Regions from separate parts of the Homo sapiens genome. Here region 2 is linked to region 1. The links come from fine-mapping of genetic effects on gene expression. Tissue or cell type: whole blood. Region 1 holds a variant in brackets; the other region holds the start of a gene. All regions are shown on one strand. Distances are between the middles of the regions.

What was found. PIP is the estimated chance that this variant, and not a neighbour inherited with it, causes the effect.
Region 2: AQP3 starts here. The variant in region 1 is fine-mapped to the expression of AQP3 in whole blood (TOPMed, PIP above 0.99).

The regions. Positions count from the first base shown.
Region 1 is chr9:33,511,109-33,519,213 of GRCh38, forward strand. It overlaps the pseudogene SUGT1P1 and the pseudogene VN1R47P. Among named protein-coding and RNA genes, the nearest start is that of ANKRD18B, 9.1 kb to the right of the region's middle. The variant G/A (reference allele first, on the strand shown) is at 4,178.
Region 2 is chr9:33,442,921-33,451,018 of GRCh38, forward strand. It overlaps AQP3 (aquaporin 3 (Gill blood group)), which reads right to left and starts at 4,673. Exons shown (of 6, transcript NM_004925.5): 1 at 4,503-4,673; 2 at 846-972; 3 at 401-538; 4 at 1-50. The coding sequence starts at 4,610. RefSeq lists an enhancer at 1-1,025 and a silencer at 4,659-4,848.

The DNA of each region.
Region 1 (8,105 bases):
GCGAATGGCCGCGCTCGAGGGCTGGCGGGGTCCCAGCGAGCAGCGGCTGGGAAACAATGGCGCGAGCGTGACGTGGGCCGGAGGCGCCGCCGCGGCGCGGAGGAAGGGGCTGCCGTGGGACTGTAGAGTCTGTAGAGTCTTTTGGAATTTATGTGATTACAATCTTGCAGTCTGTGAATAGAGATGGTTTAACTTTCCTGTAATCTTTATACCTTTTAGTTTTGTTGCTGGCTAGTATGTCCACTATTGAATAGAAATAGTGATAATGGACTTCCTTGTCTTGGTTGTAAAATCAAGAGGAAAGCATTCAATATCAAGTGCTTTTTCTACCTTTATTGAAATGTTCATATGTATTTTTAATAATAATATGTTACTGTTATATAATAATAATTTTAAAATAATATTTTAATAATAATGTTACAATGTGACCAATTACATTGGTTAATTTTCAAATGTTATCTAAATGGCCGGTTGTCCTTCCGGATCCCCATTGATTCCGATTGGGATGACACTATAGGAGAGGCAGAACCAGTGAAGGAAACATAACGTTTATTCAGGAGTTACATACAGGGGTGGTCCAGTGGTGGTGGGCTGGCCTGGAGAAACGCTACCGTTTGTATAAAAAAAAAAAAGCATGTAGTCCATATAGCATATCGCATTTTCACTTAGAACCCTCCTTCTAGCAGTCTCCATTTAACCCAAAATAAAGGGCCTTGATCACCTGTACAGGCTGTGTTCCAAGGGATGGGGCAGGGGTATGGCTGTCCTTCATAGGTAAGTAGTGAATCTCAGTGTTGGCTACTCCTGGATTCCTTAGCCTGGGACTCCAAACACACTTAGAATAGGGTTATTCTCAGGTATGCTCCATTTATGGCTCAGCCATACACCAAGGTGTATACACCAACCCCTGCCATGCACCAATATGCATATAAATATGAATAGCCTCTGAAAGGGCAAATTCCTAGATTGACCTATAGGCCCACATGAAAAGTTCTATATTAATAGCTATGTCATGGCTGAGCACAGTGGCTCATGCCTGTAATCTCAACACTTTGGGAGGTCGAGGCGGGTGGATCCCTTGAGGCCAGGAGTTGGAGACCAGCCTGGGCAACATGACAAAACCCCATCTCTACTAAAAATACAAAAATTACCTGGGCTTGGTGGTGCACACCTATAATCCCAGCTACTAAGGAGGCCAAGGCACAGGAAACACTTGAACCTGGGAGGCAGAGGTTGCAGTGAGCGAGATGGCACCACTGCACTCCAGCCTGGGCAACAGAGTCAGACTCTGTCTCAAAAAAAAAAAAAAAATAGCTGTATCGTGGACATTGAAATTATAATGAGATAATAAAACTACCACCAGAATGACTTAAATTAAAAGGATTTCCAATACCAAGCATTGACAAGGATAGGAGCATTTTTTAGAGAGAATGACCAAGGAGTTGGCTACAGTCAGGTGCTGCAGAATCAGATCTGTGGACCTTAATGTGCATCTGGTGAAATAAATAACTATAATGGTGAAGAACAAAGCAATTGCCCAGGAATCCTACTGTGGTCTGAGATAAGAAGATCATTCCTATTGCCACATCCCTGGAGGCCATTTTTCTTTTTTCAATGACTGATCATCCTATTCAGAGTGAGAGGATCTGGCGTGAAAACAAGAGGCCTGTTGTACTATGGCAACTGAAAGCCACTCTTTTCCATGTACCATTGTTTTCAAGCCATTAATTTCCTATTAAACTTCATTTTCCTCTTCCTGAGAGTTTCGCTATAAAAATATATGTGTGTATAGATATATATTCCCAGCATAAGAGTGCTGTAACAGTGTTTTACATAGAACTTTTACAACAATTCTTTGAAGTGCTTTATTGTTCCCATTTGACAGGTGAGGTGATTTCGGGCACAGGAAGGCTGAATGACATTTCCAAAGTCACCTCCTTGTAAGAGGCAGTGTCAGAAGCTGACAATGGACTTGACCACTATGCTGTCATAGCAACAGAGAGAAATAATTTTTAAGACAATCCATGTATTTAAAAAATATTTTTGTATCTCTTGTGAGTTTTTAAAAGAATCGTTTTGAATTTTTTCTTTTTGATTGTGATTGAAAACACCAATGCTTGTTTTATAGGCAAATATCATCTATAGTGATCAGAGATCCAAGTAAAATATAGATGTGCTGATCTTAGCATAATCTTAGAAGAATAATTATATACAACCAAATGGAATTTCTTAAATGCACAAATGGAATTAAAAGAGGAGGTTCTTTTCCATCTTAACCAAGAAGGAGGGCATAATGGAATGACCATGTGCTAAGCAAGGGAGCAGGAAAACAAGTAGGAGGGAAAACACTGCAGAGGAGAAACTAAATTACCATGAGTGTAGAAAGAAAATGAGGACTTGTGAATATGAAAATATCAAATACAGTATTTCAATGTCAGGATGGTTCACTATATTAAAACTCAAGTCCATTATGCACAAGAAAAACTGGAGGTAATGATTATACATTGACCCAAAATAGTACCAACATGAGCACTGAGCCTGGGGATGACATGAAAACATTCTTAAACAAGAGGAAAGATCAAAAATAATGCAATTCTGAAAACCGCTGAAGAGCATAATGTTTTTTTCTAACACAAAAAGCTAAATTCATTTACTTTTCTTTGCTGATTTCATGAGGGAAAGGAGTCTCACCATAATAAAGAGACAATAGATTTTTTCTGTCATGACACACTTATGGTCTCCATTTGGTATATTCTGTGCACAGAGTTGGTGAAAACACTATATTTACTATTTCTGAACAGAATAAGGTAATTCAATCAGCTACATCTTATACATGATCACAGGCATGGAGGTGTCATAGAAACACCTCTACAAATCTTGGAAATGTTCATGCAGATAAGACAGGGCAGCTGGCAAATTAATTTCCAAATTATATTAGAGAACTTAAAAATAGGCTGGGTGTGAATGGCTTATGCCTATAATCCCAACACTTTGGGAGGCTGAAGCAAGAGGATTGCTTGAGGCCAGGAGACCAGCCTGAGCAACATAGGGAGAACCTGTCTCTACAAAAATTTTTTTTAAGTGTGCTGAGTGTGGTGGCACATGCCTGTGGTCCCAGCTACTCAGGAGGCTGAGGTGGGAGGATCGTTTGAGCTGAGGTATTCAAGGCTGCAGTGAGCCACAATTGCACCACTTCACTCCAGCCTGAGCAATAGACCTGTCTCAAAAAAAAAAAAAAAAGATTTCATGACTTTATTCAAACCAACAATGATGAACAGTGAGGATTACATTAAATGAGAAGCAGTTAGGGGCTGGTTTATGGTCTTGACCTCCATTCCTTCTCCACGAGTGCAGCCCATGACCCAGTGATGATTTCCCCTTCCCTGCATTGCATTGGCACTGACTTAGTTTCTAGACCAGAATCCTGTTTTCCAGACAAAAGCCCTGCTCCATCTCCCAGCACACTTCCTTCCCTTGCAGGCTATGCCTTCTAGACTGAAATGGAAAATACTCACCTTATTTTTCCCTTGTTGCTGGGACAACAGGTGCAGGGTGATGCTCAGGACAGCCAGTGGGTGAGTGCGTGGAGGGAGGCATCCAGGTCTCAGATATGGGTTTGTGTCCTGTGACCTCACCTTTTCACATCACTGCAATGAGCAGTTCACCTGTGGCAACAATGACAGTGCACATTTGGGGAGCTAAAGATATTTCAATAAACTTTGTCCCAGTTACCAATTACCAAAAACAAGTACAATTTTCTGTGAAGGGGGCCAGCCCCTCCACACCTGTGGTTGTTTCTCATCCGATGGAACGAGAGACTGAGAAAAGAAAGAGACACAGAGACAAAGTATAGAGAAAGAAACGTGGGCCCAGGGGACCAGCACTCAGCATACGGAGGACCCGTGCCAGCACCAGTCTCTGAGTTCCCTCAGTATGTATTGATCATTATCTCTACCATCTCGGAGAGGTGGATGTGGCAGGACAATAGGGTAATAGTGGGGAGAGGGTCAGCAGGAAAACATGTGAACAAAGGTCTCTGTGTCATGAGCAAGGTTAAGAAAAGGTGCTGTGCTTTGATGTGCACATACACAAACATCTCGGTGCATTAAAGAGCAGTATTGCCACCAGCATGTCTCATCTCCAGCCCTAAGGTGGTTTTCTCCTATCTCAGTAGATG[G/A]AACATACAATCGGGTTTTACACCGAGACATTCCATTGCCCAGGGACGAGCAGGAGACAGATGCCTTCCTCTTGTCTCAACTGCAAAGAGGCCTTCCTCTTTCACTAATCCTCCTCAGCACAGACCCTTTACGGGTGTTGGGCTGGGGGATGGTCAGGTCTTTCCCTTCCCACGAGGCCATGTCTCAGGTTATCACATGGGGAGAAACCTTGGACAATACCTGGCTTTCCTAGGCAGAGGCCCCTGCAGCCTTCCACAGTGTATTGTGTCCCTGGGTACTTGAGATTAGAGAGTAGTGATGACTTTTAACAAGCATACTGCCTTCAAGCACTTGTTTAACAAAGCACATCCTGCATAGCCCTAAATCCATTAAACCTTGAGTCAACACAGCACATGTCTCTGCAAGCACAGGGTTGGGGCTAGGGTTACAGATTTAACAGCATCTCAAGGCAGAAGAATTTTTCTTAGTACAGAACAAAATGGAGTCTCTTATGTCTACTTCTTTCTACATAGACACAGTAACAGTCTGATCTCTCTTTCTTTTCCCCACATTCTAGTGGGCATCTCTAGCAAGATGAGAGTGTTTGGCAGAGGCTGTTGCTTTCCATAATCCCTGGAGGCAACAGGAAGGGGCTCCTAGGGAGGGAGCAGGAAGGGGTGAGTCTAGACTAGGGGCTGGCAGCAGAGTGCACATGTTTTACTGGAGTCTGTGCTTTCCTGAGATGGTCCCCTACAGAAAACCCAATTTTCTGTTAATCCTCAGATTCCTGAGCCAAACTATTATTTCACTGTGAACGGAGAGACGGGATCATGCGAGGAACTTGAGAAGGATATGTGAACAGATTACAGTGCAAACAGCAACTTGAAGTCAAATACTGATATGAAAAATAAATGGGAACAATGTTGGGCATTCCAATGTAAATTAATCAAATGTAGATGTTATATATTCTATAAATATATATTTTATTAACGTTTACCCCTAGAGAGATAGAGATTCTAAATTGTACAATATTTATAAAAGAAAAAGAGACATTTATCAGAGTCCCTCAAATACACAGAAGCACCAAGTTCATATGATCCAGAGAGAAATTCTACTAGTAAACTAACTGATAACCTGACGCTACCTAAACTATTCAAGTCTTAGTCAATCTTCCCAATAGTTTTCAGGAAGGGTGCATAAAGGTGATATGAGATCTTACCCTGGTTTGAGCCATGTATTACAAAAGTATAGGACATGTGAATATAAATGTAGACTTTTTAAATATTAGAAGCCATTGTGTCAGCACTAGAAGCCACTGTGTGAGCACATTGCAACATTACATCATAATCCCACTGCCTTTTGTGCCAGAAATGCAAGTGAGAGTCAACACTTGGAAATCCATTAATGTAATAAATTATGTTAACAGAATCAATCAGAATGTTATGTGTTCATGTTCATAGATTTAAAAAAAGACATTGCCAGGATTATGCAGAAAATCATATTTAAAAAATTGATAAGGAACTAGTGTAAAATATATACATATTTTTAGACAGGGTCTTGCTCTGTCACCCTGGCAAGAGTGCAGTGGTGCAATCATAGTTCACTGTAGCCTCGGCCTCCTGGGCTCAAGTGATCCTCTCACCACAGCCTCCCCAGCAGCTGGGACTATAGGCACATGCCAGCACACCCGGCTAATTTTTTGTTTTTTTTTTGTATCTCGTAGAGACAGGGTCTCACTATGTAGCCCAGGCCAGTCCTGAACTCCCGGCCTCAGTGGATCCTACTGCCTCAGCCTCCCAAATTACATGCATGAGCCACTGCACCTGGCCCTAAATGTTTCTTGAAAGCAAAATCTACTTTCTATAGAGGTGGGCCTGAGTCAACCCTTTCGAAGCCATTAGGGGCCAGGTGTGGTGGCTCATGCCTGCAATTACAGCACTTTGGAAGGCCGAGGCGGGTGGAACACCTGAGGTCAGGAGTTCCAGACCAGTCTGACCAACATGGGAAAACCCCTTCTCTAGAAAAAATACAAAAATTAGTTGGGCATGGTGGGCACGCCTGTAGTCCCAGCTCCTCAGGAGGCTGAGACAGGAGAATTACTTGAATCTGGGAGGTAGAGGTTGCAGTAAGCCGAGATTATGCCATTGCACTCCACCCTGAGCAACAGAGCAAGATTCTGTCTAAAAAACAAAAGCAAAAACAAACAAACAAAAAAAATTAAAAAGCTATTAGGACAGTCTTGGAAGAAAAAGTCTTGGAAGGAAAAGTCTGTTGGGTAAGGATTAATTAACCAGTACACAGGCAGGCAAGGTGACCCCTAGTGGTCAGCTAGTCTCAGAAAAAAATTTATGCATCTAGGGAAAAATTGGTCACAACTAGGCAATTAGATCACAGCCTGCCCATCAAGTAAAACAAAATTCTGTGTCAAACACATTGTAACACAGAACACTGGTACAAATCTTAAACATTCCCTGATAGGCATCGTAGAGTTTTTTGGTTTGTTCTGTTTTTTTTGTTTTGTTTTTTGCTCCCTAGAGATTAATAAGCAGAATGGGACCCTCAAATTTCAAAGCATGCAATAATGGTCCCCCCACTACTGGGACCCCTGCTAGTTACATGTTTAAAAATTAATTGATAACTGATTTTGGCCAGGCGCAGTGACTCACGCCTGTAATCCCAGCACTTTGGGAGGCCAAGGCAGGCAGATCATCTGAGGTCAGGAGTTCAAGACCAGCCTGGCCAACATGTTAAAACCCCAACTCTACTAGTGGCGGCTCAGGCCTGGAATCCCAGCTACTCTCGAGGCTGAGGCAGGAGAATCACTTGAATCCGGGAGGCAGAGGTTGCAGTGAGCTGAGATCACACCACTGCACTCCAGCCTGGGTGACAAGAGCAAAACTCTGTCAAAAAGAAGAAAGAAAGAAAGAGAAAAAGAGAAAAAAATTAAGGTCCTCTCTGATGCATGTTTTAATTTGTATTTGTATAAATTTAAGGGGTACGAGTGTAGTTTTGTTACACGAACATACTGGGTAGTGGTGAAGTCTGGACTCGTAGTGTAAACATTCCCTGAAGAGTGCACATTATATCCACTATGAAATTTCTCAACCCTCACCCCTCTGACTCACACACCCTTCTGAGCCTCCAATGACTATTATTCCACTCTGTGTCCATGAGTATGTGTTATTTAGCTCCTATTTATAAGTGAGAACATGCAGTATTTGACTTTCTGTTTCTGTTATTTTACTTAAGATAATGACCTTCATTTCCATCCATGTTGCTGCAAAAGACATAATTTCATTCTTTTTAAAATTTTGAAGTTTATTTTAGACATAGGGATACATGTGCAGATTTGTTACATGAGAATATTGTGGATTTTGTTGTTTTTATGGCTGAATAGTATTCCACTGTATGCATACCACATTTTCTTTAGCCAATCATCTATTGATGGACACTTAGATTGATTTCATATCTTTGCTATCATAAAGATATGGAATACAGCAATCCTGCTACTGAATATATACATAAAGGAGACATACTATATAAAAAAGATATCTGCACTTGTATGCTTAGAGCAGCACTTAGGTTGATTCCATATCTCAAAGATATAATATTTCTCTTTTATCTATATATCCAGTAGCAGGATGCTGGATCCAGCCTGGGTGACAAGAGCAAGACTCTGTCTGAGAAAAAAAAAAAAAGAATGAAAGATAGAACCTCACAACAGATTCAACAGAAATTTTAAAGGAATTTAAGATATTATGAGGAACAACAAATGTCAACAAGTTTAGCAACATAAATGAAATAAGCAAATTCCGATAAAGACATTAAGTAGCAAAATTGACTAAAGAACAAATAGAAAATCTTAATAGATGTATATAAAGTAAAAAAAAATTGAATTAGTAATTAAATATATTCCCCCTGAAGAAGAGTGTAGTGCTAGATGCCTTA
Region 2 (8,098 bases), 68 kb before region 1:
ATTGGGGCCCGAAACAAAAAGCTGGTTGTCGGCGAAGTGCCAGATTGCATCTGGTGACAGATTAGACACACAGTGAGTCGGGGGAGAGGCCTGAGCCCAGACTTCCCTCTCAGGTGTGCCCTCCCCACCCTCCCATGAGTTATGGGTAAGTAGCAATACTGCTGTATTGCAGCAGGCAGAGGGGGTGGCGTGGGGTGGGGTGGAGGGCCTGAGACTCTGTTATTGCCCAACTTGTTTCTTTCCCTTCGTGCCCCCTACCTTGACCCTGTGCGTGAATGAGTGAGTCATGAGCCCGGGGCCTGGGCAGGTCCTAGCCGTCTGTCATCAAAAGGCCTGGTGCCAGCAGGTCCTGAACAGAGGGACGGGGGTAGTGGAGGAGGACAGGGTGGGGAATGCTTACCATAATACAGCCCAAAAACTATTCCAGCACCCAAGAAGGCTCCCAGCGTCTGTGCCAGGGTGTAGATGGGCAGCTTGATCCAGGGCTCACGAGCCAGGAAGCACATGGCAAAGGTCACGGCAGGGTTCAGGTGGGCCCCTGGGCAGAGGGGACAAGGGACCTATTAGCTGCAGCCTGCCACAGTCGGCAGGCTAGGGTCCCCTGAGAAGGGGTGCAGAGAGGGGTTTCTTGCACAGGATGGCGGTTGGTCTATGTAACAGGTCAGCTGATAATCTCTGATTCCAAGGTGAGAGTCGAAAGTTCTAAGTGTCAAGTTTCTTCTCCACCCTCCTTTCCCAAGGGGCCAAAGCAGAGGCCACAGCTGTGACCTGCCCTTAGGAATGCCAGGACACCTAGTGGGAATGCTATTGAGGGCCAAGGGCTGGGGGCAGGGTTAAGGCCTTACCAGAGACCTGGCCAGCGATGAGGATGCCCAGAGTGACAGCAAAGCCAAAGGCCAGGTTGATGGTGAGGAAACCACCGTGGGTGCCCCGGCTGAGCACAACCTGGGCCACGGAGCCACAGCCAAACATCTGTCAGGAAGAAGAACAGGCAGGGAGGGTGAGGACCAGCAACTCTCACTCCAGAAGGAAGGGGTGAAGCCAGCAACATGCCCACTCGCCACCACTGGGAGGACTAGAGGCGCTTCCTGGAACCCAGCCCAAACCCCTTCTGCTGTAATTGCACTTTCCAGAAAAAGGACACATGCCTTCCCACCCCACTGTCCCAACTCTAATATGAGAGGGCCCTATGGAAAGGGCTGGAAGCAGGGTCTGCGACTGGGATCCTAGAAGATGACTGAACCATCTTCACTGATTTTCCTTGAATTTCAGCAGGCGTAGGTGTAGGGGAACAGCTTTCACCTTAGCACAAGTTTCTCCACAGCCCTTCAGGCCTGGACCATAAAGGTGGGAAGCCTCTCACTCATCCCCCAGCTGCCCCAAAGAAAAGCTCATGTAGGCCCGGTGCAGTGGCTCACACTGTAATCCCAGCACTTTGGTAGGCCGAGGTGGGTGGATCACCTGAGGTCAGGAGTTTGAGACCAGCCTGGCCAACATAGTGAAACCCCATCTCTACTAAAAGTACAAAAATTAGCCAGGCGTGGTGGCAGGTGCCTGTAATCCCAGCTACTCGGGAGGCTGAGGCAGGAGAATCACTTGAAAATGGGAGGCAGATGTTGCAGTGAGCCAAGATTGCGCCACTGCACTTCAGCCTGGGCGACAGAGCGGGACTCCATCTCAAAAAAAAAAAAAAAAGAGTTGAAAAGAAAAGCTCATGTGGTGGTGGTAGTGGTGGCAATGGGCGGCATAAATAAATAGGGAGGAGACCAGAAGTGAGGTTGAATCCACTTCTCCTGAGTCCAGGATGCCAGAGCCCCAGCCTTCACCATGTCCCCCTCAACAACCTCCCCTTCCTTTACCTGTCCCTGTCCCAGCGTCTCCTCTCTCCACCCATGACCTCTCTGCTCTCAGGGGTCCAGATTCCCCACTCAGATTTGGAGGTCCTACAGACAGGGATCTGTGTGGCTCCTCTCACTATCCCCAGCCCGGGACCCAGGGCTGTAGAAATGGGGAGATCGGTTCTAAACTTTCTGCCAAAAATGGGGGAACTAAAAGAGACTAAGAGCCCTGGTGTTCTACAAATATAGAACATACTGGAGCCAGCTGTGGTGGCTCACACCTGTAATCCCAGCACTTTGGAGGCTGAGATGGGAGGATCTTGAACCCAGGAGTTTGAGAACAGCCTGGGCAACATAGTGAGACTTTGTCTCTATTTAAAAAAGAAAAAGAACGTACTATGTCTGTTCCCCTTGTTCAAGCCTGAAAATACTTCTGCAGCAGCTGTAAAGCATTGTTGCCCTGAGCCCCCTGAGTGTCCCTCAAAGCTGCTCCAATGCCTTGCCCTGGTCTCCTCTCCCACCTGCCCATAACTAAAGGTTTTATGCCCACAGAGCAGGCAGTTTCCAGGACCTGTGCTACAGACCTTGTTTATTCTGACGGGTCAGTGCCTGTTGTACTGGATAGTTAAGCATTTTGATTATCATCCCAGAAAGACCAAGAGATAACGGAGAAGCCAGCGGCAATGACATGGGGCAAAGGTGTGCAGGCAGGTGAGAGCAAAGATCAGAGATTGCAGGTGTATGTGTGAGGAGGGGTGGTGGGAGACAGGCACGTGAGGGTCTGAGGCGCCCTGCCCTGCTTGGGAGGCCCTGGCAGCAGCTCCTTGCCTGCCAAAGGCTCAGACCTGGCTCCATCCCAGGACGCCTTGGAGGGAGGAGCTGTCAGAGCCAGTTCCACCACCTTGGGGCTAATCTTCCTCTTCCTCCCCCAACCCCTGCCCTGAGTTCTCGGCCAGCACCGCCCCCTGCCCTCACACCAGGTATCTCAGAGAAAGGGGCTTTCCTCACCCCAAAGCCAACCCTGATTCTGCCACTGCAGGCCTAGGCTCCCAACACGCAGGTAGGCAGGCAGGCACTCACCCACTACAAAGGGATCCCCAGGCCTGCCCCTCCAGTTCATGCAGTCCTTGAAGTTCTGCTTCTCACTGATATCCAATACCTCACATCCATCTGAGTCTGCAACCCTTCCCCTAAAATTTAACACTCTTCTTTTGTGGTCTGGGATAAGCCTGATGATCCTGGGGCTCAGTGGGAGGACTAACGGCTCCTTTGTGAGAGAGTGAACTGAGACTTGGGAGGGAATGAGGAGGCCCCTCTAGGAAAATAGAAGACATCATCCTCCCCTAGCCTGGCTGCTCTAAAACAGGTGGCTGGACTCAGGACTCCGATAGGAGTGAGGGCTCCGAGGCAGGAGAGTGATAAAGGCCACCTCCTATTGCCTTCTTGGCACAGGAGAGAGGGGCTAGGGCTGGCTGATAGGACGACTAATCTTATGGGAGGCTGTGGATAAAATGCCCCCTGTGGCTTCCCCACTTCCTATTCTTGGAAGCCAGAAGTGGGTTTCAGCCCTCCTCTGCCCATAGATCCTGATCCTCAACCATTTGGGGATCCCTACTTGCCCTTAGTTAGGCTTCCTAGTCCACAGTGGGCCAGCTGGTCTGTACTACCCAGGGCTGGGGCAGGAACGGAGTAACCCACTCACTGCAATGTAGCAACTGAACACAGAGGAAAACAGGTGTAACCACATGAGCGGCTGAAAAATCAGAGTAACTGGGACAGGAAATAGAACATAACTGGTGGGTCTGCCAGACCTAAGAAGTGCAAACAGAGTCACTCAGAACAAAACCAGGGTGAAACTGGTGTGACCAAGGAGTAACTAGGACTGAGGAGTAACTCAGGCAGGGAAATGCTCACTCAGAGAACCCACAGAGTAACCAAGAGGCCAGGGAGTAACCAGAATGCTTGTCGTCTTCTGCACAGACGCTGACAGCATCTGTCTGGATAACAGACAGGGCCTGGGAGTCGCTGAGCACCAGGTGAGCAACTTTAGACACGCGTCCTCTGTGCCTGGGCCTAGCTTCCTCCCACCCTTCTACCGTCAGAATCTGCCTCCCTTCCCACTTCGCTGTTCGCAGCCCATGTGGCCTGCACCCTCTGCCCCCACTCGTGCAAACTGTCCTCACTCACTTCAACCTTTGGACTTTTTGAGGCTTAATTATTCATTAGAGGCCAGACACCCAGGACCCAAATAACCTAATAATGGCTCATTTGCCTCCGCCCCCTCCCCTACATCTGGGGGCTGGGATTCTGGGAATCTGGAGGGGTGTGGGAGGCAGGGGAAGTGGCTGGCTGTCCCAGACTGCAAGCGTGACCGCTGCCCCCAGCCTGTTGGCTGAGTCACTTGTGGGAGGGTAAACGATCGGCACTATCACTGGGGAGTAACAGCTGTCATTCTGGCAAGAGTCGGAGCTGTCAGAGAGGGGGTTAGAACCGTGGGGAAGAGGACTTTGGAAGTCAGCTTGATCCTCCGCGGTTAAGCGTGGGGGTCACAGCTGGGGAGGTGGGTCCAGGCTACCTTGGAAAACACAGCCCCTTCGGGGAAGTGAGAGTTTGGGGAGTGCAAGGGCTGGAGAGAGAAGGGCTTCCCCGGCTCCCTCCACTCACCACCAGGATGAGGGTCCCCAGGCACTCGGCCAGCGCCTGTCGGAGCAGCCGGTAGCGGATGTGGAGCATCTCCCCGCAGCGGGACACCAGCTCCTTCTGTCGACCCATGGCGGGGCAGGCGGCGGCGCTGTCGGGCGGGCAGGGGTGGCGGGAGGCGGTGGCGCAGCGAGCAGCGGCCTCCAGCGCTGGTGGCTCCCTTTATAGGAGCGCTGGAGACACGGGCCCCGCCCGCCCTGCAGCCCCGCCCTGCAGTCCCGGAGCGCCGAGGAGTGCGCGCCCCCTCGCCCCCGCCCCACCTCGGCTGGGAGGCTGGTGCGGACGCCGGGTGGAGGGAGCTGCGGGCATGGAGTGTGAGGAGCTTTGAGGGACGGGTGGCCTTCGGAGGGCGCTTAAGGGAGGGGACGTCAAGGGGGCTGAGAGGCTTAGGCAGATCTGAGAGCCAATGGTGGGATTATAGGCAGGGTTCAGGGCCATGGCTGGAGAGGATGCAGCTGTCATAGAGACCACCTGCGCCCTGTGATCACCCCACTTCCTTGCGGGCAGGAGGAGACCTGTCAGAAAGAAACTGGCCGCATCTCTCCAGGATGACTGGACCCAACAGATCCTCAGTTCGAGGCAGGAGGAGGAGGCTGCGAGCCCCAAGTGAGAAGCAACACTGTCTCTTCTGTCAGGACAGATAAGGCACCGACCCTTCAAGGGGACAGCTAGTGTCAGAGGGGCAGCAGTCCAGACTCAGGTGGGCACACAGACACACGTGCTGAGTTCCAACCAGACTTCATGGGCCCTTCTCCCTGTGCTATGAGCACGTCGTGTGTCGCATGTCCTGGCCAGCTATGTCCACAGCTGTGTCTACACATGGCGGATGTCCTGTGTGCCTAATTGTACGGCTGGGCATTCCTCGTGGCTGTGCACATGCCTGTTGAACATGGCTAGGTGACCTAGCTTGTCACACGTGTACCTGCGTGCATTGCTCACATGGCTCCAGAGGCTGAGCTGCAGTTGCCCCGACATGCCACATGCCACATGTTTGCCAGCAGGCTGAGTCCCAGCTGTTTTTAACCCTCTCCTCTCCCATCTGACTTACCCCCAGCCAAGGAAGAGTCTGTCTCTTTTTTTTTTTTAGACGGAGTCTCTCTCTGTCGCCTAGGTGGAGTGCAATGGCGTGATCTCGGCTCCCTGCAACCTCCACCTCCCAGGTTCAAGTGATTCTCCTGCTTCAGCCTCCCGATTAGCTGGGATTACAGGTGCACACCACCATGCCCAGCTAATTTTTGTTTTTTTAGTGGAGATGGGGATTCACCATGTTGACCAGGCTGATTTCGAACTCCTGACCACAAGTTATCCACCCGCCTCAGCCTCCCAAAGTGCTGGGATTACAGGCGTGAGCCACTGAGCCCAGCAAGTCTGCCTCTTTAAGCAAACTTAATTATGGGGGAGTCAGCCCTATCTGAGGGGGATCATGGGACAACCTTGCCCTCTCTCTCTTTTTAAAGAGTAGGGTCTTGCTCCATCACCCAGGCTGTGGTGCAATCACAGCTCACTGTAGCCTCGAACTCCTGGGCCCAAGTGATCCTCCCACCTCAGCCTCCAGAATGGATGGGACTATAGGGACTATGTGCCACCATGACACTCAGCTAATTTTTAAAAATCTGTTGTAAAAATGAGGTCTTGCTATGTTGCCCAGGTTAGTCTCAAACTCCTGGCTTTAAACGATCCTCCCACCTCGGCCTCCCGAAGTGCAACCTTGCCCTCTATGCTGCTTTTAATAACAAGGAAACATCTGGTGGCCTGGGAGCAAACAACATGCCCTTAGGCTGAGCTTCTATGGCAGCATTGCCAGAGGAGATCAAAGAAATCATTTTCCAGAGGGACTTAATCCAGGTGGGCTAATGACCCTGAGGACTTGTCCCTTGAGGGACGAATATGAGAAATAAGGGCCCCCGGCTGGGCGTGGTGGCTCACGCCTATAATCCCAGCACTTTGGGAGGCCGAGGCGGGCAGATCACCTGAGGTCAGGAGTTCAAGACCACACTGACCAACATGGTGAAACCCTGTCTCTACTAAAAATACCAAAAATTAGCCGGGCGTGATGGCGGGTGCCTGTAATCTCAGCTGTTCGGGAGGCTGAGGCAGGAGAATCACTTGAACCCAGGAGGCGGAAGTTGCAGTGACCTGAGATCATGCCATTGCACTCCAGCCTGGGCAACAAGAGCCAAACTCCATCTCAAAAAAAAAAAAAAAAAAAAGGGCTCCCACGGTTCATTGAGAAGCGAGCAGGGCTAGTGCAGAGGTTCTTCTCCCAGAGGGACCAAAAGAGAGAAGGGTTAGTCCTGTCGTCCTTGATCAGAAATGTGATCAGCACCAAGAAAGCCCCAGGGGCCACTGGGACCTACAGTCAAACTATGTTAGGTGACAGGACCATTGACATTTCAGGACAGATAGGCATGGACCCTTCAAGTGGACAGGTTGTGTCAGGAGAGGTAGCAGAAGAAGCTAAACAAGCTCTTAAAAACATGGATGATGACTCACTCCAGCCTCTAGCTCATGGGATCAAACAATCCTCCCACCTCAGCCTCTCAAATAGCTGGGACTACAGGCATGCATCACGATGCCCGGCTAATTTTTGTATTGTTTGTAGAGAAGGGGTTTCGCCATGTTGGCCAGGCTGGTCTGGAACTCCCGAGCTCAAGCAATTTGCCCACCTTGGCCTCCTAGAGTGCTTGGATTGTAGGATTATGAGTATTGCTAAACCCATCTCTTTGGGCATCAACCACCTCTGCCACATGCCTGTAATCCCAGCTACTCGGGAGGCTGAGACAGGAGGATCACTTGAACCCAGGAGGCAGAGGTTGCAGTGAGCCAAGATCACCCCACCTGGGTTCAAGCGATTCTCCTGCTTCAGCTTCCCGAGTAGCTGGGATTACAGGCATGCACCACCATGTCCAGCCAATTTTTTTGTTTTTTGTTTTTTGTTTTTTTTAGTAGAGACGGGGTTTCACCACGTTGGCCAGGCTGGTCTCGAACTCCTGACCTCAGGTGATCCACCCGTCTCGGCCTCCCAAAGTGCTGGGATTACAGGCATGATTCACCGTACCTGGCCTAGATAGGCATGTTAAAAAAGAAAAGAAAAGAAAGGAAATAAGGGCTCCCAGTCCCAGAGGTGGTTCATGCCCAAAGAGATGGGTTTAGCATACACATGAAGTAGATTCACATACATGCAGGTGCTTGCGCATACACACACACAAACACACAGACACACACACACACCCTGTGGTTTGCAGTCACACACTTGCCTATAGACACTGAGCTCTGCTCCCATGATCAGGGATCCCATTCACATGAGAGCCTCGCCATGGGCTCACACATATATAGAACCCCCACATGAGGACTCTAATGACCCTTGACCCAGAAAGATGCACCCTACCCTCCAGGCCTCTATAGGCTGGGAGGCCCCGTGGTGAATCAGGGAGCCATCACTGAGTACCTGCCCTCTGGCCCCACTGCCAGCCTGTGACTCAAGACAGAACCATAGACTCCTGGTGCCAGGGCCCAGATCACAGGCTATGGGAGTGGTAGAGCACCCCTGCCATGCTGCC